Homo sapiens: one gene and its partners. The protein of the gene in region 3 interacts with the protein of the main gene of each other region in a pairwise test. Each region holds a gene or a part of one and is shown on either strand. Other genes may lie near its edges.

Evidence for each region. Proteins that work in one complex are often made in the same cells at the same time.
Region 1: the proteins of LARP4B (region 3) and ATXN1L interact in binary tests that used the Homo sapiens proteins (3 or more experiments, as listed by UniProt).
Region 2: the proteins of LARP4B (region 3) and NDUFS1 interact in binary tests that used the Homo sapiens proteins (3 or more experiments, as listed by UniProt).

Annotation. Positions count from the first base shown.
Region 1 is NC_000016.10:71,841,841-71,849,517, reverse strand, and holds the start of ATXN1L (ataxin-1-like), read right to left. Parts: upstream 3,543-7,677; 5' UTR 3,414-3,542; intron 1,509-3,413; 5' UTR 1,447-1,508; intron 1-1,446. UniProt on the Homo sapiens protein: Chromatin-binding factor that repress Notch signaling in the absence of Notch intracellular domain by acting as a CBF1 corepressor. Binds to the HEY promoter and might assist, along with NCOR2, RBPJ-mediated repression.
Region 2 is NC_000002.12:206,113,903-206,121,703, forward strand, and holds the end of NDUFS1 (NADH-ubiquinone oxidoreductase 75 kDa subunit, mitochondrial isoform 1 precursor), read right to left. Parts: 3' UTR 915-7,801; downstream 1-914.
Region 3 is NC_000010.11:809,067-816,867, forward strand, and holds the end of LARP4B (la-related protein 4B), read right to left. Parts: intron 6,005-7,801; coding exon 5,880-6,004; intron 5,785-5,879; coding exon 5,676-5,784; coding exon of another isoform or gene 5,571-5,675; intron 4,191-5,570; coding exon of another isoform or gene 4,148-4,190; coding exon 3,860-4,147; 3' UTR 431-3,859; downstream 1-430. UniProt on the Homo sapiens protein: Stimulates mRNA translation.

The sequences.
Region 1 (7,677 bases), on a different chromosome or scaffold from region 3:
TTAGAAAATAAGGAGGAAAGAGAAAGGGGCAGACAAGGAGGCTACCCCCAACTCATCCAGCCTGGGACATGAGAGAAACAGTCGGGGAAATCACAAGGCACAAAGAGCTACAGGGACACGCATTCACCAATGCACAAATAACCTGTGGGCTCCACAAGCCCAGGGAGACCAACAGCTTCACGGTTAGTCATGTGTCTCATAAGCACCTTGTCTCTTTTCTGCCTTCTTCCCAAAGGGGGCTTTGAACACATGGTCTTTCCTGCTGGCTCTTTTGCTTTTTTTTTTTTTTTTTTTTTTTTTTAAAACACATGGAGTTTTGCTCTTGTTGCCCTGGCCACAGTACATGGTGCAATCTCAGCTCACCGCAACCTCGCCTCCCGGGTTCAAGCAATTCTCCTGCCTCAGCCTCCCAAGCAGCTGGGACTACAGGCATGCACCACCACGCCTGGCTAACTTTGTATTTTTAGTAGAGATGGGGTTTCACCATGTTGGCCAGGCTAGTCTCGAACGCCTGCCCTTGGGTGATCCGCCCACCTCAGCCTCCCAAAGTGCTGGGATTACGGGTGTGAGCCACAGCGCCCAGCCTCCTGCTGGCTCTTTTTCTTAAGTTTCTCCTTTTGCTACCAAACATGAATGTGCCACCTTCTTTCCTGAACATATGACCTCATCCTTGCTTCCTTTCTGTAGCCTAATTTGGGTTATGATCTCACCTACTGCTATCCCAAGCCTGGCTAAAAACTCTCTTCCTCCTTTGCCTCATCTCATCAGTACCTCAAGGACCTAGGTGCCAAAACCCTCAGGTCTGCTCGTGTTTTGTTTTTTTTTTTAAGACTTTGCTCCCTAACCAGGTTATGAAAATTAACATCTTTGACCCATGAAATAATACATTTTAACTCAGCCTCTATATAGTGAAAGTGATTAAACTAGTTTGCTGTCAACTTGTTTCTCCTCTTCACCAAAGAACAACAAAATTCTAAATTCTTCTGACCTTACGTACACTTCCGGTTCCCTAGTCTCAAAAGGCTTCTTCTCAATGATCACCTTCAATTTGCCTTCTCTATTCATTCCCTTTCTTTTTTCTTTGTGCTTTCTTTTACCAATAGCTCCTTCTCCACTGTAGGTCTGCTCCAGGCACCACTCCATGAAATTCTGGTTCCATTCCTCTAAACATGCCTGTTTTTTTCCCCGTATCTGTATGATTCATAAGAAAGTTCTCTTTCCCTTTTCTCTTATTGTCACCTTTCACAAATGCTTTTGTCCATTGTTATAAAGCAACTTTTTGGTCTGAACACTTCAGTGCACATGAACTTTGCTGCCTATTTCTTCCAACCAGGTTCCAGTTCTTTGGATCTGAAAAGAGCTTTCTATATTACATTCTGTTCTGTTTTTCCACTGTGACATCCCAGATATTTTCCTGAAACAAGGAATTCAAAGTGCCGGTATTACCTGAGTTTCCAGTGGTGCTTCTGAGCAGCTGTAGTAAGTGTCCTCCCGGCTGGCTCGGGAGCCTAGAAGATAGAAACAGGAATGGAGTAAGCGGCTGCCTGACCTCTAATTCTCCCCAGGGTCACCATGAAAGGTAATTCCAAAGCATTAGAGTATACACGTCCTTGCCTCATCTTCTTCTCCACAGGTAAACAGTACATTTACCCAGAGTGCCCAGGCAGTTGAACAGAGAGAAAAACACCTCTAATGCTCCAACTTGTAAGAAGACATCCCTGAAAAAAAATTTCCATGTATCAAATTTCATTGGTTTTCCGTAACATCATTTCCCTAACATCTACCTGTGCCTGTTCCCCAAAGGTTAAATTTGCTCCAATCCAAATTTCAGATAAACGCACAAATAAAAATGGAAGCTTTAACACTGTTCCCATATGAACAATGGGAAGCAGGAAAAATCAACTCTATGGATTTCCCCTTTATTCTGGGCCTATGAAAACATAAATGTGGAGTTATTTAAATGAAAAAAAGCAGCAGTAGATGAAAAAGAACAATTATTTATGTTTCTGGGGCAGAAAAAGAGGTCAGGGGGGAGTCACTCAAGGAGAAGACTTATTAAGAGATTTTCAGGGTTAAAAAAAAATGAGCATATGTGTGTGTGTATGTAAAATTTTCTGAGTGACAGTATACCAAGTGCTGAATCAGGTATGAAAGAAACTGAAAATATTGCCTTGGTCCTCAGCTGGCTAACACTGGTGAAACAAAACTACCACTAAACCATCACTATGTGAATCTACACTTGCCAGAAACGCAAAGCGAGAAAGAATGGAGCCTTAACCTCTGAAAACAGAGAAGGCAGTACAGATGAGTGAGTGCTCTGAGAAACTGACTATCCTGTCCAAGTCCTATAGAACACTCTAAGCCTCAACCCAAACCGAATGCAACATTTCTCTCTTAAGATTGGCAAGGTGCAGGTGTACACAAAAGGTGGAAGGATAGGAAAACACAGTGGGAAAACAAATTCCTAATTCCACAAACACATATTATTACACAGTGGCATAAATAATGACTCTTTTCTCCACCAGCAGCTTTAATAACTGAAAAGCAGCTTGCTTTCTTCTTCATTCCCAACAGAAACTGGGGTCACACTTCAATCCCAAAATGATCCTTGCTTTCTGTAACGAAAACTTTAAAGAAAACCTGCCTCCAGGTCACCGAGAAGTTAGCAAACACAGGCTAGTAAAGGGACCGAAAGAGGCAAAAGGTCTGCAGAAAGGAAAACAAAGAGCCAAGCCTGTGCGCCAGGTTCCCACAACGCAAAACACACTTAAGAATCCGAAACCTCCGCCTCTCGAGAACCTCACTGAGCATCTCAAAGGGAAAACGCAGCTTGTGACCCCAACCGAGCTAACAGGCTGTTCAGGAGAGTTGCCAACGCTGCTAGCAGAGCCCGGAACCAAGCTCCTCATCACGCTTGGGTCGGAATCAAGGGGCTGAACCCAGCTGGAGACCCAAATTCTCTGCGGGCGAGAGGTGCGCCCGACAGAAAGGGAGAAGCTTGTCAGAGACTACGGTTATGGCTCCCAGTGGTCCCGCAATCCTTGATCCAACAAGGGTAGGGCTCGAAATTGGGAATTCTGCGTTTAGAGAGTAGGGGGTCCACCCTTCACCAAGGGGGCAGGGGCGAGGCCCTGCAGGCGACGCTTCCTTGTTTGGGGGCCCTTCCCGCCCCACAGACTCGGACACCTTGGCTCGCAGGCACACAGCCTCCGGGGCGCCGGGGCCTGAGGCCACCTTCCAGGACAGGCCAGAGAGAAGCGCGAGGGGGTCTAGGTGCGGCCTCTCCCCTCCGTCTGTCCACGGTTCATGGGCCCCGGCCCGCCGGAGCAACGGGCTCCTGAGGGCCACTTCCTCCGGAGCACCGACCCCAGGCCTGCCTGGCCCCGGCGGCCACCACTTCCAGGGACACTCACCAGCCCATTTCACAGCGCTTCCCAGGATCCACTCACTCGTCCCGGAGCCGCCGCAACCGCGGCCGCCGCCATCCCCGGCCCCGGAGCCGCCCCACACCCAGCGCCCCCCACAGCCGGGCGCCCGGAGATGGCGTCAAGCTCGTCCCGCCCCCGGCGCGGAGAGATTGCGTCACGGCCGGGGTGGGAGAGCAACGCCCAGGACTCCCCGGGAAGGGAGGGTGCCACACTGCCTTCGCGTCGGGCGTTCCCTCTGGTGGGTGAACAAACTCCTCTCCCTGGGACCGGGTCACGTGAATAGGGCTGGGCCCGGCCCCCTCAGCCTGACCCCACAATGACCCCGCAATCTTTCCACCTCAGTAAATTTTGGGGGTTCCCAAACAGAGCCCCGGGGCGTGGTCATCGGCGACCCCCCATTTCCTGGACTTCTTGTCCTGACTTGTGCAGCCCCTTCTGGGGAACTTCGGGGGACCCCGAGGTGACCTAGGCTCAGGAGAAAAGGAGATACCTCTTACCTCTTGGGGACCCAGGTGGAGATAGGAAGTCTTCTTTTTTTCTTTTCTTTCTTTTTTTTGGAGACAGTTTCGCTCTTGTTGCCCAGGCTAGAGTGCAATGGCACGATCTCGGCTCACCCAACCTCCGCCTGCCAGGTTCAAGCAATTCTCCTATCTCAGCCTCCCGAGTAGCTGGGATTACAGGCATGCGCCACCACACCTGGCTAATTTTTTGTATTTTTAGTAGAGACAGGGTTTCTCCTTGCTGGTCAGGCTGGTCTCGAACTCCCGACCTCAGGTGATCCCCACACCTCGGCCTGCCAAAGTGCTGGGATTACAGGCGTGAGCCACCGTGCCAGGTCAATAGGAGCTCTGTAAGTGTTGAGAAGTGGCCCCCGAGGGAGCTAAGAGTGAACCCCACTCAGGATCTAGGGGAAGGTGACAAGGAGTGGAACACCTGAAAGTTTAGAGAGAGCCCGGGGTTTAGTACAGTGAGAAGCAGCTTGGTTTAGTGGAAAGAGGGCTTGACTACTCAGTGAAATATTATTCATTACAAATTAACTAATTATTCATTACAAATTAACTGGTCAACTTCATAGTAACATGAACATCTGATTAACTTAAGTGAAGACAAAAGTGAGCGCCAGTTGAATTTATGTTTGAATAACAACTGTGTTTTTGTTGTTGTTTGTTTTAAAGTATTAGGTTGGTGCAAAAGTAATTGCGGTTTTGGCCACCGAAATGGAGACTTTCAGTTTCTTCAAACTCTGTTCAATAAATAACAATTGGGCCAGGCGCGGTGGCTCACGCCTGCAATCCCAGCACTTTGGGAGGCCAAGGCCGGCGGATCACGAGGTCAGGAGATCGCAGACCATCCTGGCTAACACGGCGAAACCCCGTCTCTACTAAAAATACAGAAAATTAGCCGGGCATGGTGGCGGGCACCTGTACTCCCAGCTACTCGGGAGGCTGAAGCAGGAGAATGGCATGAACCCGGGAGGCAGAGCTTGCAGTGAGCCGAGATCGTGCCACTGCACTCCAGCCTGGGCAATAGAGTGAGACTCCGTCTTAAAAAAAAAAAAAGAAAAAAAAAGATATGTCATTGCAGTTGCGTGTATGTGTGTGTGTGTGTGTACATATAATTTTTTTTTTTTTTTAGCCCTGTCGCCCAGGTTAGAGTGCAGTGGTGCCATCTTAGCTCACTGCAGCCTCAAATTCCTGTGCTCAAGCAGTCCTCCCACCTCAGCCTCTGGGGTAGGTGCGATGATAGGCATGCACTACCATGCCCAGCTAATTTTTTAAAATTTCTTGCAGAGACAAGGTCTTGCTATGTTGCCCAGGCTGGTCTTAGACTCCTGTGCTCAAGTGATCTTCCCTCCTCGGCCTCCCAAAGTGCTGACATTTCAGTCATGAGCCAACCACACCCAGCGTCGGTTGTATGTATTTCTGTGTATCTGTACAGAAAAGGAGTAGAACACATAACTAATTAACATTGGTTATTTTTGGGAAGGAAAGTGGAATTGGGTGGTGGTCAAAAGGCAAAGAAACAACTTATATTATTGTTTGAATATTTAGGAGAATATTATCTTAGAAATAAAAAAAGTAAGTTGAGATCCAGATACAATGCATGATCTCTAAGATTCTTTCTAGGGAAGCCTTAGATCTCAATTATATTTTCTCACCTGGATGGACACATAGGGCCATAAAAAATTATCAAGTACCACACAGACACACACACAGACACACACACACACGCACACATACACACAGCACAAATGGGAAAAAACATAGTGAAGTTACTGCTGTCATCTAAATCATCTGAGTGTTTTGCTTCATTAATATTAATATTGTTCATGACAGTCTCCTTCTCTCTCAGTTTGGCCAAGAAGGAAGTCCTGTGGTCACTCAGTGTGTCCGTTTTAGCACTAACTAGCATTCTGGTTTCTAGTTCATTTCTTAGCTCACTAAACTGGCATTAAAATAGTCAAGATAGGAACCCTTGGACTATCCAAGCATATTCAAGGATAGCTAGTTTCTCCCAGATCAAGATATACACTCAGAGCTGGGTTTTCTGTACAAATTTGAAAGAGTAGACACAGGTAGATGTAAGCAAAAAAAAAGTTTTATGGCTACCAACCATTAACATAATGATGTACATGATACAAAAGCATGTCCATTAAAAAGTAAAAACAGGATGTTCTGATTGGTGAAACACAGGTGATTTCCGGGTTTGGCACTGCAGTCCCAAAAGGGTGGGTCATATGTCCGCTGTATCCCATTCCCAAACTCTTTACTACTCTGAGTAATCTTTTTTTCTTTGGTTGTATATCCTGATGGTAGAAAGCTCCATAGCAACAGTTTGACAGGTATATTAGTGATAAGTAAACTAATAAAGTTTTTAGATTTATGGCACAAAAATAACCAAAAGTTACCTAATTTATCCAAATATCTGTATTATTTTTCTGGAATCTGGGTAACACCCCTATTTAAGCTATTTATATTCAGTAAACCAGGCCGGGTGTGGTGGCTCACGCCTGTAATCCCAGCACTTTGGGAGGCCAAAGCAGGTGAATCACCTGAGGTCAGGAGTTCAAGACTAGCCTGGCCAGCTTGGTGAAACCCCATCTGTACTAAAAATACAAAAATTAGTTGGGCATGGTGGCCTGTGCCTATAATTCCAGCTACATGAGAGGCTGAGGCAGGATAATCACTTGAACCCAGGCGGCAAAGGTTGCAGTGAGCCGAGATCGTGCCACTGCACTCCAGCCTGGGCAACAAAGTGAGACTCTGTCTCAAAAACACAAACAAACAAAAACTGATAAAGTAAATGTTTTTTTGTTTTTGATGTGTTTTAGGTATTTGGGGTATTTGGAAAATGATAAGTTAAACTTCAATCTGTTTTGTCCACTTCTTCCCTTTCCCTGGATTCCTACTGAATTCCATTGTTGTGTATAGATTGAATTTTTGTGATGGAAGAGCTTGAGCTGCTCTGTTGGAAGGAAAACAAAAATAAAACCCTGTTAATGCTGGTTATTTTTCTCCCTGAGCAGTCAGGAGTTGCAAACTAGCTCTCTGTGTTACCTAGTTCTCACTGGTGACATTTCTTGTCCTGTAATACAGGGAGAGGAAACTCAGGAAACTACCCCAACTCTTTTTTGACAATGCAGATCAAACCAGAGAGAAGCACTGGTAACTTGGGAAACCATGCGTGTCATAACAAGAGGAGTAGGTGGCGTCTTTCATACTGTCATGTCTTCCTGTTTGTATACTTGAGCATGTCAAGGTGTCATTTTAGGAAAGGAACTTTATCTTTGGATGCCAATGGCAGAAACAACAACAAACCAGCCAGGCGCGGTGGCTCATGCCTGTAATCCCAGCACTTCATGAGGCCAAGGCAGGCAGATCACTCGAGGTCAGGAGTTCGAGACCAGCCTGGGCAACAGGGTGAAACCCTCTCTCTACTGAAAATACAAAAATGAGCCAGGCATTGTGGCAGGTGCCTGAATCCCGGCTACTCGGGAGGCTGAGGCAGGAGAATGGCTTGAACCCAGGAGGCACAGGTTACAGTGAGCTGAGATTGCACCACTGCACTCCAGCCCCAGTGACAGAGTGAGACTCTGTTTAAAAAAAAAGAACAGCAAATCCCAAGAATACACTGAAATTGTACTAGGCCAGGTGCAGTGGCTCACACCTGTAATCCCAGCACTTTGGGAGGCCGAGGCGGGTGGATCACGAGGTCAGGAGATCGAGACCATCCTGACTAACACAGTGAA
Region 2 (7,801 bases), on a different chromosome or scaffold from region 3:
GAGATAGAGTCTCACTCTGTCATCTAGGCGAGAGTGCAGTGGTGCGATCTTGGCTCACTGCAACCTCCGCCTCCTGGGTTCAAGTGATTCTGCTGTCTCAGCCTCCTGAGTAGCTAGAATTACAGGCGTGTGCCACCATGCTCAGCTAATTTTTGTATTTTTTTGTTTTGTTTTGTTTTGTTTTTTGAGAGAGTCTCACTCTGTCATCCAGGCTGGAGTGCAGTGGTGTGATCTCGGCTCACTGCAACCTCCATCTCCTGGGTTCAAGCAATTCTCCTGCCTCAGCCTCCTGAGTAGTTGGGACTACAGGCGCATGCCACCATGCCCGGCTAATTTTTTGTATTTTTAGTAGAGACAGAGTTTCACCATGTTGGCTATGGCTGGTCTCAAACTCCTGACCTCAGGTGACCCACCTGCCTCGGCCTCCCAAAGTGCTGGGATTACAGGCGTGAGCCACCGTGCCTGGACTACTTTTTATCAACATTTTGTTTTCCTACAGATTCTTCATTTAAACAATTTTTTTTTTGAGATGGAATTTCGCTCTTGTTGCCCAGGCTGGAGTGCAATGGTGTGATCTCAGCTCACCGCAACCTCCACCTCCCAGGTTCAAGCGTTTCTCCTGCCTCAGTCTCCTAAGTAGCTGGGATTACAGGCATGCACCACCACATCTGGCTAATTTTGTATTTTTAGTAGAGATGGGGTTTCTCCATGTTGGTCAGGCTGGTCCCAAACTCTTGACCTCAGGTGATCTGCCCGCCTTGGCCTTTGGGATTACAGGCGTGAGCTACCGCACTTGGCCACAATATGTTGTTTCTAAAAATTATAAAGCAGTATATTGTAAAATTTTTCAAATGTTTGATCAAGGTATAAAATTCATTTCCTTATACTATACCACATGTTAATTGATCCAGGGGTAATCACAATTAAGTTTTTATTGTATCTGCTGAGATACTTTCCATACACACGTAAGCATATACATATATACACACACACACATTATTGTACACTTAATTTATGTCCTTAATACATTCTGAAGCACTTTCCATATCAGCACGTTGAGATCTAGCTCATTGGTTTAAACATCTGCATGTTTCATTTTATGATTATACAAAAAAATTTTTCAGCAGTTCCCTATTGATGGATATTTACATATTTTTGTTTTGTCTGACATGACAAACATTGCAAATGTACATCCTTTGTCTCATGATGAATCATGCCTTGAGTCTCACTCATATCTGATTTAGATGAGACTTTGGACTTTGACTTTAAAGTTGATGCTGGAACAAGTTAAGACTTTTTAGGGGCTATTGGGATGGAATGAATTTATTTTGCATGTGAGGACATGAATCTGGGGAGCCCAAGGTGTGGAATGCTATGTTTTGAATGTGTTGTCTCCACAATTCATGTGTTGGAAACTTAATCCCAATGCAACAGGGTTGGGAGGCGGAGCCTTCTGGGAGATGATTAGGTCACAAGGACTCTGGCCTCATATTTGATTGATGCCATTATAAAAAGGGTTTGCGGGAGCATGTTAGCTCTCCCTTGCCCTTCCATCTTCTGCCATGGGAGGACAGCAAGAAGGCCCTTCCCAGATGCTGGCACCTGATCATGGTCTTCCTGGCCTCCAGAATTGTAAGAAGTAAATTTTTTTTTTTTTTAACGAAGAAGTGAGTATTTTATTATTTTGCTGTACAGCTGTTGCTTCACTATATAAAAACAGCACCAGCAAATGCAGTGTATTGCAAAATTAAGATAGTGTTGTTCTTCATCTGACACTGTACAAGCAACAAAAACTTCTTCACTCCCAGTTATTTCCAATGGAAAGATCATTAAGTATTTCATCCCAAGTCCAGGTATGGACATACACAAGTTACAATATTATATAAGGCTTAAGAATAACAACATTATCTTTGAATTATGTAATTTTTGTAACTAATTTTTACCATGGATAATTTCATGGATAATTTCATGAATACTAGAGCCTAGTCTAAAAATCATAGGATGTTGTGAAAAAGACACATATTATGTTTATCTACAATCATTAGAAAGTTAAAAGGCATCTTCTTTCATTAGCAGTGTTAACAGTAGTTTTTTTTTCCCATGGGTAATGCTAAAAGTTGCTATTCTAAGTCTTCTATCCACCACTAATTTAGGACAACTCTGCTGGGTTGCGTTATTTCATACTAGCTTATTTAGTGGTTCCATTTTCACTCCTCAATAGATTTTATGTATTTCTCATATGCTTCTTCACTCATAAGTTCATCTAGTTATGAAGGGTTACTCAGTGTCATCTTGATCAGCCAACCATCTTCATAACGAGATTTGTTTACAAGTCCTGGATTTTCTGCAAGAGCTTCATTAATTTCGGTTACTTCTCCTGATAAAGGAGAATAGAGTTCACTAGCAGCTTTCACACTCTCCAAAGCACCAAACTCATCTTGTTTGTTCAATTTTGTCCCAACTTCAGGCAGATTACAGTAACCAGACGGCGCCCATCCCAAGCTGCCAGGGCCTCGATAGGCAGGGCGCGGCAGGTGCCAGGACCACGTGCAGGCTGCAGAGCACGGCCCGCACGCTCCGCACCACTCGCAGCGCCATGTTCCCAGGGGTGCGGGGATGGCAGCGCTACGCCTCAGCCACTCGCGCGGGGAGGCGGGGCGGTGTGGGCAGAAGTAAATTTCTTTATAAATTACCCAGTCTGGGCCTGGTGTGTTGGCTCACATGTGTAATTCCAGAACTTTGGGAGGTCAAGGTGGGAGGAGCGCCTGGGCCCAGGGGTTCAAGACGAGCCTGGGCAACATAGTGAGACCTGTCTCTATAAAATATTTTTAAAAATTAGCTGGGCGCGGTGGCTTACGCCTGTAATCCCAGCACTTTGGGAGGCCGAGGTGGGCAGATCATGAGGTCAGGAGTTTGAGACCAGCCTGACCAACATGGTGAAACCCCGTCTCTACTAAAAATACAAAAATTAGCTGGGCATGGTGGCGCACACCTGTAATCCTAGCTAGATCCTAGTAGATTGAGGCAGGAAAACTGAACCCGGGAGGTGGAGGTTGCAGTGAGCTGAGATTGTGCCACTGCACTTCAGCCTGGGCGACAAACTGAGACTCCGTCTCAGAAAAAAAAAATAAATAAATAAAAATTAGTGGGGCATGGTGGCTCACACCTGTAGTTCCAGCTGTTCAGGAGGCTGAGGCAGGAGGATTGCTTGATCCAGGGAGGTTGAGGCTGCAGTGAACTGTGATCATGCCACTGAACCCCAGCCTGGGTGACAGAGTTGCCTCAATCAGTCAATCAATCAACCCATCACCCAGTCTGTGATATTCTGTTTTAACAGCAGAAACAAAGACAACTAGACATGCCCACTGTGTTATGTACTTACCTCTATTAGAATATGTTATGTCATTACTATAATTGATGCCTACATATCTCTTTTAGTATACTGTTAGCTTCTTGAGGACATTAGCTAAATTGTATTTCTCTTTGTAGTCTTGGGTAATGTACTTGACACACAGTAGATACTCTGCAAAAAAATTTTGTTTTTCTTTTTGAGATGGGGTCTCGCTTTGTCGCCCATGCTAGAGCGCAGTGGCGCGATCTGGGATCACTGCAACCTCCGCCTCCCAGGTTTAAGCAATTCTCTGACTCAGCCTCCAGAGTAGCTGGGATTACAGGTGTCTTGCCACCATGCCCGGCTAATTTTTGTATTTTTAGTAGAGATGGGGTTTCACTATCTTGGCCAGGCTGGTCTTGAACTCCTGGCCTTATGAGAGCCACCGCACCCAGCTGATACTCTGCAAATGTTTAATAGATGTTGGAGCTGAATTTCAGGCTTTGTAATGTCACAGAACCAGGCATCAGAAGAGCTGATCCAAACCCAAGATCTGCCCCTAACTTGCCTCTTATTCTTTCTGGCCTCCATTTCCACAATTATAAAATGCAGGTATAATACTAAAATTTTTTTTTGTATAGTCCTTTACAGATCCAAAATTATGATTTTAAGAAGGAAATTAATAAGTTATTCATCTCAGTATCTCTTTAGGTGCCAATACTGTAAATTAATCACCAGTCTCAGATCATATATTTGCCATTTCCAACATATGCTTTTAGTCCAGTCTAATCACCAGTCTCAGACTATACATTGCCATTTTCAACATATGCTTTTAGTGAGTTATTTAAAAATATTAAGATATCAGATGTTTTGAGTATCAGCAATAGGTAAGTCAATCTCTAAACATTTTCAGTAGTGAAAAACACAAAAAACACTTTAAGCAGAGGGTATTTGGTTTTGAGATCCTTGTTCTCTTAAAATCTGTGATCTGAAATCTAGTCAGTTTTCTCATTAACATCCTTGTCCCTTGGGATAAATTAAATCAGCAAACTAAAGTGCTATGTAACTATTAAAATATTTTAAAATATTGGTTATTTAAAACTTATTAGGGGCCGGGTACAGTGGCTCATGCCTGTAATCCCAGCACTTTGGGAGGCTGAGGCAGGTGGATCACTTGAACTCAGGAGTTTAAGACCAGCCTGGGTAACATGGCGAAACCTCGTCTCTACAAAAAATACAAAAATTAGCCAGGTGTGGTGGCGTGTGCCTGTAGTCCCAGCCACTTGGGAGACTGAAGTGGGAGGATGGCTTGAGCCCAGGAGATGGAGGTTGCAGTGTGCTGAGATCATGCCATGCATTGCACTCCAGTCTGGGTAACAGAGCCAGAATCTTATTAGGGAATTCTGACATCTTCATCTTTTTATAAAAGATGGCCAGGCTGGGTGCGCTGGCTCACATCTGGAATCCCAGCACTTTGGGAGGCTGAGGCGGGTGAATCACCTGAGGTCAGGGGTTCAAGACCAGCCTGACCAATATGGTGAAACCTCATCTCTACTAAAAATACAAAAATTGACTGGGCACGGATAGCTCACGCCTGTAATCCCAGCACTCTGGGAGGTTGAGGCGGGTGGATCACCTGAGGTCAGGAGTTTGAGACCATCCTGCCCAACATGGTGAAACCCCGCCTCTACTAAAAACACAAAAATTAGCTGGGCGTGGTGGTGTGCTCCTGTAGTCCCAGCTACTCAGGAGGCTGAGGCAGGAGGATCGCTTGAACCCAGGAGGTGGAGGTTGCAGTGAGCTGAGATTGCGCCACTGCACTCCAGACTGGCAATACAGTGAGACTCAATCTAAGATAAAACAAAGAAACAAAAAGGAATGCACTTCTTAATAAGCTGGAGATTATTTTAGGCATGGCTTTCCCTCATAGTCTATGAAATTTTCCTACAATGATCATCCTCAGTTAGCACATGGGGCATTTAGTATATGTCAGGAAACAGGCCTAAGGTTTTTACAAGCTTTCTGATGTAATCATCAAAACAATTCTATGAGGCTGGAAGTAGGTACAATTTTACAATTTTTATCCTCATTTTACAGATGAAGAAATACTCTTAAAGAAAATGTTAATGTCAACAACAAACAATAAATTGGTACTGGGTATTGTCAAATATATTTTTTAATTTTTACTTTTTTTCAGACAGAGTCTCACTCTGTCACCCAGGCTGGAGTGCAACGGTGCAATCTTGACTCACTGCAACCTCCGTCTCCTGGGTTTAAGTGATTCTCCTGCCTCAGCCTCCTGAGTGAGTAGCTGGGATTACAGGCATATGCCACCATGGCTGGCTAATTTTGTATTTTTAGTAGAGACAGAGTTTCACCATGTCGGACAGGCTGGTCTCGAAAACTCCTGACCTCAGGTGATCCGCCTGCCTCGGCCTCCCAAAGTGCTGGGATTACAGGCTTGAGCTACTGTGCCAGGCCAAGTATATTTTTAATTAATGTATTCATTATAATACAATTTACTACAAATTTGAGGGGGGAGGCTTTCCATATGGAATTCAAGATATTTTTGGATATATATTCAACTTTTTTTTTTAAGAGTTGGGGGTCTTGTTATGTTGCTGATATGGTTTGGATGGCTGTCACTTCCAAATCTCATGTTGAAATGTAACCCCCAATGCTGGAGGTAGGGCCTCGTGGGAGGTATAGAATCATGGGGCAAATCCTTCATGAATGGCTTGGCACCATCACCTTGGTGATGAGTGAGATCTTAGTTCATGTGAAATTTGGTTGTTTAGAGTCTGGGACCTCCTCCTCTCTCTTGCTCCCTCTCTCACCATGTGATATGCTCGCTCCCATTTTGCCTTCTACCATGATTGTAAGCTTCCTGAGGCCCTCATCAGAAGCAGCTGCTGGTGCCATGCTTTGTGTACAGCCTGCAGAAACTGTAAGCCAATTAAATCTCTCTTTTGCAAGAATTACCCAATCTCAGATATTCCTTTACAGTAATGCAAACAGATTAAAACAGATTAGTACTGACAGTGGGGCACTGCTATACATATTGGAAAATGTAGAAACAGCTTTGGAACTGGGTAACAGGCAGAGGTTGGAAGAATCTGGAGGGCTCAGAAGACAGAAAGATGAGGGAAAGTTTGGAACTTAGAGACTAGTTAAGTGGTTGTGACCAAAATGCTGATAGACATATGGTGAAGTCCAGAGTGATGAGGTCTCAGATGGAAATGAGGAAGTTATTGGGAACAGGAATAAAGGTACATCTATGTCATGCTTTAGCAAATAGCTTGGGTGCATTGTGTCCAGGCCCTAGGAATCTGTGGAAGTTTGAACTTAAGAGTGATGACTTAGGGTATCAGGGTATCTGGCAGAAGAAATTTCTAAGCAGCAAAGCATTCAAGATGTGGCCTGGCTGATGCTAGCAGCCTACAATCAGATATGGAAGCAAAGAAATAACTTAAAGTTGGAACATATTTAAAAGGGAAGCAGAGCGTAGAAGTTTGGAAAATTCACAGACTAGTCATGTGGCAGAGAAGGAAAAAGCACTTTGAGGAGAGGAATACAAGCAGGCTGCAGGAATACAGTTGTCCATGCTGGACTCAACTCATTTGCTCAAGCAATCCTTGTGCCTCAGCCTCCCAAGTAGCTGGGGCTATAGCTTGTGCCATCATGCTCAGCTATTCACCTTACATTGCTGTCCAAAATGTTTTCATTTGAGGCAACCTGGGATAGTAAAAGTACTTCTAATTAAACACTCCTGCCATTAGTATCTAGCTGTGTAGCCATAAATAAGTTATTTGATATTTCTTGAGTCTCAATTAATACCTACTATTAGCAGAGATTTTGTGAAGAATAGTCTTAATGTATTTAAAGCTTTAATGGCACTTATTTAGAAGGTCCTCAGGAAATGGTATTATTATTCCAAGGTCTTTCTAGATTGCCTTATTCACCTAAAGAGACTTGATCTTGAGCCTTTGTAGATTTTCTCATTGGTGATTCCTTCACTGCTTAGAATGTCATGATTCCACCAGACAGGTTACTCTCATCTACGTGTATTTTTCTTACATCTTTTTCAGTCTATTTTTCTCTAGCAATTATCTTCAATGTTTATGCTTACAATAACCTTAGTATTTGGCATTACGACACTAATATGTGCCCATGAGACAGACGGAGCACTACTTATCCCAGAGGAGGTATTATTTATTTATTTATTTATTTTTTGAGAGGGAGGCTTGTTTCTTCACCCAGGCTGCAGTGCAATGGTGTGATCTCGGCTTACCGCGACCTCCGCCTTGACTCTCAGTTCAAGCGATTTTCCTGCTTCAGCCTCCCCAGTAGCTGGGATTACAGCCATGTGCCACCATGCCTGGCTAATTTTTGTATTTTTAGTAGAGACAGGGTTTCACCACGTTGGCCAGGCTGGTCTCAAACTCCTGACCTCAATGATCTGCCCGCCTC
Region 3 (7,801 bases):
GCAACATGTTAATCAGTCCCCCATCCACTCGGTGCCTGGCACAGGAGGGGCCCCGCCTCCCGCCAGCCTCTTCCTAGTGCAGACATCACTGCTGCCTAAGGATGAGTCCATCACCATGAAGACCCAACGTTAGCTCCAAACAGCTTCATGGACACAGCTTTGGAGAGAGTGCCATTTTAACAAAATCAAAGTCCTGATACAGGAACATGTATTTTTGCAGTACATCTTGGCAGTCACAGTAATGGCTGTCTCCGCATGAGCATCTGATGTTAATGCTCACTCTGAACCACTAAAACACAAAGGGTGAGCCCCGTGTGCCACAGCCAGCCCCCACGTAGGTGAGAAGGCTTTAGGATCCAATCATATATGAGGCCCGTGTTTCTTTCTCATGCACTTATGGGAACAGACAAAAAACTATGTTTAGAAAAGATGCATTATTGAAGAAATTTTAATTTAAAAAAAATCAAAAGAAAAATTGAACAGTGCCTAAATCTTTATTTTCATAACCTACATTTTTTTTCAAATTAGACAGTTTTACACTGAATGACACAAAAGGAAACTTAAATTACCAATAGTTTACATGTAAGCTTGATTCCAGTCTTAATGAAGCAGAACAAAAACGAAACCCTCGAGGAGCGACCACATGACCCCCGCGCTGTGAGCTGCTGGCGGCCAGCGCCCTCGCCTCGATTGTCTGCAGCCCTGTAGTGGGCCGCGAGGCACGCAAGCCGCAACTACAGCTCGCCAGCGGGGCACACAGACAGGCATGCACCACCACTACCCGTCGCCCGGATACACTGAACTGGTTTTGAAGCCTGAACTGCAGAGATCCTAATATAGCAACGCAGGACGTTTACGGCCACCCGCCAGTGACAGCCGGTGATGTGATGACAGGAGGGCCTGGGTGAAAATGTCAAGACACTCACTCTCAGAGAACGACGACTCCACTTGAAATTCATGTCTGGTGAAACGGGACCAGGTTTTTATTCTTCTATTTCAAAATGATAAGCATCATCACACGATTTTACAAGTTAAAATGCCATTTGTCACTGCTGCATCTCTGATTCTATAACCTGAGATACTGCTGGGGGTAAAGGAGGGTGTTAACTTAAAAAAAAAAAAAGTATGAAAGCCACTCTCATCGCTGTATGTGACACAGCACAGTTGGCATGGACCGCCACAGCTTCCTATTATGATAACTCTCATTTTCTTCTGAGCAGAAACTCTTGAAGTAGTATCAGGTTTTTTCAGACATTATATAGCAATCTGTATTTCACCTTTAATTAAAAAGGATGCTATAAAAATCACCTCCGAGCAACGTTTCAGTTCTTGATGCAGAAGACTGCTGCTGGCTAGGCAGTAACTACAGTGTATTGACCGGAGGGCAGCAGAGCCCTCCAGTGGCGACTGGCTAATGCACGCGCTGCCCTCCTCATGCAGCTGTTGAGCTCCCACTTCGGTCGACAAAGTGAAGGACTAAGCTGGCTCTAACCACACACACACACTGCGCTGCAATGCTCACACCTTGGGGGAAAGGACTTCTCATTATTAAAAACCAAGGACTCACTGGCGGACGGGCAGGCCTTGTGTTTTGGGAATGGCTGATGGCGCCCTGGCCCTTCCGTAGCGAAGATGCAGCTCGTAGGCCCAGGCCTCGAGGTTGCCTCCCAGCTTTCTGAGTATTGAGAGTTTGGGTTTCACAGATCAATTATTTCTGATTTTTTTTTTTTTTTTGGTCAGTGAACTGACAACTACAAAAAAAAATCCCCATGTTCTTTAAAATGCATTTGAAAAACACTAGCCCTGTGGCTATTTCTCTGTATTTGAATAATGGCAACTGCTTTAAAGGAAATGGTCAAATAGGCATGTTTTCCTCTGGCAGGGTCAATCATGCTTAGCTGCAGGTGATTTAAATTAGATTACTAGTCACCTTCACTTACGATCCTGCCAGTTTTTGCTCTCTATATACTTTAAAACTCTTTCACATTAGATATGATTAGTATGCATTTACATACATTTTAAAAGAGTATGAAAACATCTGGAGGCTTTTAATAAGACTTTCCAATTCCCTTTTGCAGCAAAGAGGCAGAATCAGTTCAACACACCGATGTAAGAGAAAAAAGAAAATCTCAACAAATCAAAATAATATTCAAACCACAACATTTAGTTTATCTACATCCCGCTCAACAGCAACATTTATAATATATCAATAATCTGTATCAGAATTTTCTCTGTAGGGTACCTTTTTCATATGTTCTGATTATTTACAACTGTACAAGCGAAGCACACTCCAAGTGCACGTATTTAATACAGTATTGACTATTTGCATTTACAGGATTTTCCAACATTCTGAAAAAAGATCAACTGTTGAAGATCTTTAAGGTATATTACAAAAACTACTACTAGCTCTTGTACTACAGTATGCTTACTCAGTAAAACTAGCGACAGGAGATCCACGCAGTAACTGAGTAACTCTGACCCACTCACGCCAACCCAGGGCCGGGCTCCATGGACTCTAAGCTGTCTTATACAAAAGTTAAGGCAAAGTCATTTTCAAGTTTAAATAAAATTCAAGTCTTTAAATATTGGATGGAAATAATTTTTTCTTAAAAAAAACCCTCAGTCTTGTTAAATAACATTTTGTGGAATAAAGTGTATGGTTACATTTAGCAGGAAATATTCTTATTTTAATGTTTGCTGCTTAGAATAAAGAAAAATTTGAGGCATTTTAAAACAAAATAATTTATATTTAACTTTATTATAAACTTGCTAACTTTAGTGCATCCTTGTTCTTCAGAAGTGCAGCACTTCTGGAAGTGAATCAATGAGGCCCTCGTCTTGGAGGTAAAAGAGCAGGAACTTTATCCTCCACCAGCCAAAGAGGGGGAAAAACCACAAACACCATTCTCTCACGATTACATAACTCTTAAATCCATGTGCTGATGCAGAGGTACAGGGAGATGTCCACACGGAGCTGAAGATGTGGACTCTCTCCAACCAGAGTGCTGGGGAACACGGACAGAAATGTGCACAGAGCAGGGCCGGGGCCATCAGCTCACAGGGGTCAAAACAACATCATGGTACAACTTCTGGTAACATGTCAGTGGGCAACAAAGTGTATGTTTTCATGTAGGTTCTATTCACAATGTGCTTTGAATTTATATTACATAATAGCCACTTGAAACTGGAGTGAGAAGCTGGTTACTTGCTTGCAGTGCATCAGAACCAAGGTTTCTGGGGTGGCCCCTGCAGGTTCACTCCGCCCAGGAGATCAAAAAGGATGCGCTCTCTACATTCTTAAATGCCACAGTCCCCTACCAACGGCTTAGGTGGAAGCACAGCTCCCACATCAGCACTGATGCCCTGGCGCGGCCAGCACTGCCTCTACGAGGCCACACCTGCCTCTGCCAAGGCCACTGGCCCTCATTCATCTGCGGGGACGTTCTAGAGATATGCACTTACAGACCAGTTACTTAAAAAAAAAAAAAAAAAGCAGAGTTCCCTTAATTTAGAAAAACTCACTATATATAGCTTGCATTCAGAGCCACATGGAGGCTTAATAAAAAATACCAATTTGTTAGGATAAATGCTTTTTCTATCTTGGAAAAAAAAATCAGACTTATGCATCACCTCCAGTTAAGCACCAACCTAAAATAAGGTTTGTATTAATTAAATCCTGAAAAATCGATTTTTTTTCAAGAGGGGGAGAATCCAACTCACAGAAGAAAACCAACTTGAGGATCCCACAGGCCTCAGACACTGCAAGCTCCTAACCAGCGGCTCGCCCTCGCACTGAGTGGGAGAGTGTCTCGTTTGTGGTTAACACAGCGCTCTGCGACCCCTCCCAGACGTACGGTTTTCACTGAGGAGACTTGGGGGGAGTGCTCTGCTCTCGGCTGAGACGCTTCCCCATGGCCGAGGGCGAGGGCCGGCCCCCCGCCGGCCGCCTCTGGTCTCTGGGGGCTCCAGGTGTGGACTTGAGGGCTGGGGGCTCCCGGTATCTCTCTGCGGGCTCTGCCAGCTTCTTTTCCTCCTTCCCACAACCAACAGTGTTTGGCTTTTGTTCTTTTTGGGGTTGCAATGGGGAAGAAGGAGGCTCTTTACTCGTTCTCTGACAAATCTCTGCGTAGCTGGGCTTTCGCAATTCCTGGAAACAGACAATCCTGGGTTACCTGTGTGAAATGGTGTCTCTAGGGACAAGACAGGAAATCAAGTTCACTTAAGATAAAAGAGTTTTCAACTGTAACTAAGTTTCCATCTTCACTAGTGTTTTTAACTTTTAAAAAGTTCATAAAATCTAATGATTTAGTTTCCCCTGCAGCAGAACACTCCCTCTGTGCTACTGTAGTAATGGATAAAATTAGAAAAGGCATGACGAAGAAGAGTGCTGACTCAACACCATCCCTACCCAGCCCTATGCCTGCTTGGGCAATGCGGAAGCCTAGGAAGAGTCCGGATGCTGCCCACACTGGCTCCGCCAGCTCAGGACAACAGAAGGGTGTCCCAGGTGCCCACGGTGGGCAATGGACCCTCACACGGTACTCAACCCTGAAAGGCAAACTCCAAAAACAGTCTTTAAATAAAAATGTTTTGCACATTTCAAACTACAAAGGACTGGAAATATCTAAGAATGATGAAGACAGCTAAAATCTTCAAGAAATGTGTAATAGGGTTTTCAGGTAAGTGGAAGCATAAAGACTAAATAACAGAAAAGTAAAATATTTCCCTTAATAACTTTTTTTTTTTTTTTTTTGAGACACAGTCTCACTCTGTCGCACAGGCTGGAGTGCAGCAGTGCAATCTCAGCTCACTGCAACCTCTGCCTTCCGGGTTCAAGTGATTCTCCTGCCTCAGCCTCCTGAGTAGCTGGGACTACAGGTGCCCACCACCAAACCCAGCTAATTTTTTGTATTTTCAGTAGAGACAGGGTTTCACCATGTTGTTCAGGACTGTCTGGATCTCCTGACCGCATGATCTGCCTACCTCGGCCTCCCAAAGTGCTGGGATTACAGGCGTGAGCCACAGCACCTGGCCTCTTTTATTATTATTATTATTTATTATTAAAATTATTAATTTTAACCTATAAAAAATCCTTTTTTAGACTCAGCCCAGGGGACAGTAAGGGATTAAACTCCCAAATTCAAGGAAAAGGCTCCCCCAAGATCAAACTACAGAGGCCACAACTCAGAGTAAGAGAGGCCACAGTTCACCCAGTAGGGAAAACAGCAGAAAGGAAGTCGCTGGGGTTCAGGCCTGCTGGGCCCACAGGGGTTGGAGGCTGGTGGGGCCACCATCTTGCTCTTCCTGTCTCTTCATCAGACACACGATGCGCGCGCACGCACGCAAACATACACACACGCGCGAAATGCTGAAATGATCCTAAAGTCTATGGAGAAACAGGAGCTGGGGTCTTGTTACTACTCAAGAAACCTCTATTGACCAACACTGAAATAAAAGGACTACATGGTGGTCTGAGAAAGAACTAGAGTAGTTAGTGGAAAATTATTAGCAAATATTAAAGGTATTTTGTACAGAAAACACAACACAGACAGACGCAAATAAAAACCCACCAAATTAGATGTGATTAAAAAACGAGCAGGTGCAGGAGTGCGCAGCGTCTGTTCACACCAGAGCCTCGCGGCTGTCGTGCAGGAAGGCAGGCACGAGGTACGTACCGTGGCGGCTCCGTTCACCTGCACCGATTTACACGCGGTCGCAGTGAGGGCGGAAGGAAGTCTGTCCACACTGTGGGTTTCCCTCTGTTTCTCCGCCACCTTGGGATCACTGTAAAAATGCCACCCGATATTTGAATCTCATGCAACATCACAGGCCATTCAAGTCAGTCAACACCAAGGCGCTGGAAGAACACCAATACTCACTCGGGTAAATGAGCTGGGGAGGGGGATCGCTCGTACGTTGCTGATACAGCACAAGAAGCCGGCACCGAGGGCTCTCTGGAGACCACTACAGGAAGGGTGTTCACGCTTGCGTCTGCACTGAGGGTCTGAAACAGGGTCAAGAGTGTTCATCAGAGTCCTGCCGGCACTAAGCGGAGCTGGTACCAGTGCCCGTTCACCCCACCCGTGAACAGCCTTGGGAGAGCAGCACAAGGACATAGGGGAAGAGGGTCTTCTCCAGCAAAAATGTCACAGAGCCCAGGACTATCCTCTGCCCCACAGATCGCCCACCCTTCTCTTTCTCGGCAAATGCCCCACTGTTCTTACATCACAGGCCCTTATCTCCTCTCCCGCAATGATGATCTACAAGCTTATTTCTTAACTGAACAGGCATCAAACACATCTCACCCACCTGGCACTTTGGGCCCAGCACGGCACGGCACAACACCACATGCATATCTGCTGAGTGTCGAATCCTAACACAGTCCAACACAACTCATTCACACCGCTGAGAAAAAACAATCGGCGCCTCCACACCCATATAAATGTGAGCTCCCAGCCCTCCCTGAATTCACAACCCCAGGAAGCAGGTGTGCGAATGCCCCCATCTCAACAGGTGAGGAAACTGAGGCCCAATACCTCTAAGTTAATTTGCCCAAGGCCAGGAAGCAAAGGACGGAGTGAAACTTACTCCCTCCTTACTCCAGCCAGCGACCCCTGTGCAGGGGCTATTTCATGTGTGCTTGATCTTATACATATGGCATGTGATGATACACTTGTCATGCAACTTAAAAAAGGCAGGAGGGCAGGTGCTCTTTACACTTCTGCCCTTAGATGAAGGCTGACGACAGACCTAGAGCCCTTCCAGCTGGAGAACCAGAATCCGCTGCAATTCCTGCGCTCGACCAGCAGGAATCCAGCTTGGTGGAAACAAGAGGGCAAAGGACTCCTTTTGTAAAAGCTCATTTTAAATTCAGGGTAGGGGCCGGGCACGGTGGCTCACGCCTATAATCCCCGCATTTTGGGAGGCTGAGGTGGACGAATCACCTGAGGTCAGGGGTTTGAGGCCAGCCTGGCCAACATGGTGAAACCCCATCTCTACTAATAATACAAAAATTAGCCGGGTGTGGTGGTGCATGCCTGTAGTCCCAGCTACTCGGTAGGCCGAGGCAGGAGAATCACTGGAACCCAGGAGGCGGAGGTTGCAGGGAGCCAAGGTCGTGCCACTGCATTCCAGCCTGGGTGACAGAGCAAGACTCTATCTTAAATAAACAAATTAACTAATTAATTCAGGATATGTGCAGTCCCAATGCAAATGAAATGCAGATCCACAACTGCAGGTCATGAAGCAAGTCAGAGTGACCATCACGAGCTCCATGTCAACAGGGGAAGGGCTGAACCCCATCATTTCTGGAGCCTCCACCCCACTTTGAAACCCAAGGGCCACGCTGTTGACTCAAGAAGCTCCCAAGAAGCAGCAATGGAGCCCACTACACCTGGGTGGTGGCATAAGGCTCAGGGTCAGGCTTTTCAAAGAAGCAATTCTTTCTTCAAGAGAAACCTTACACAAGACTCAAACTGGGCACAGCAGGAGCTGCTGTTTCTGAAGCAGGGTTGGAGACCTGCCTCTTCTCCTCCACTCAATACCAACGGGAGTAGGCTACAGTTGGAAAACTAGAATTCATGATCTTTAAACTGCATTTCTTCTCAAGGCACTAATACCTTAGAAATGACGGTGTGGAAATTTAAGGCTAATGTGACAATCCTGGAATGTACTCAATCTCCAAACAGGAGCATGACCATCTACCAATATGAAAAGGACTAGACACGTCACCTGGCTTTCATTGTAAAGATACTGCATCAAAATCCACCTTAAATTCTGCCCTAGGAAGTGAGGAATGGTT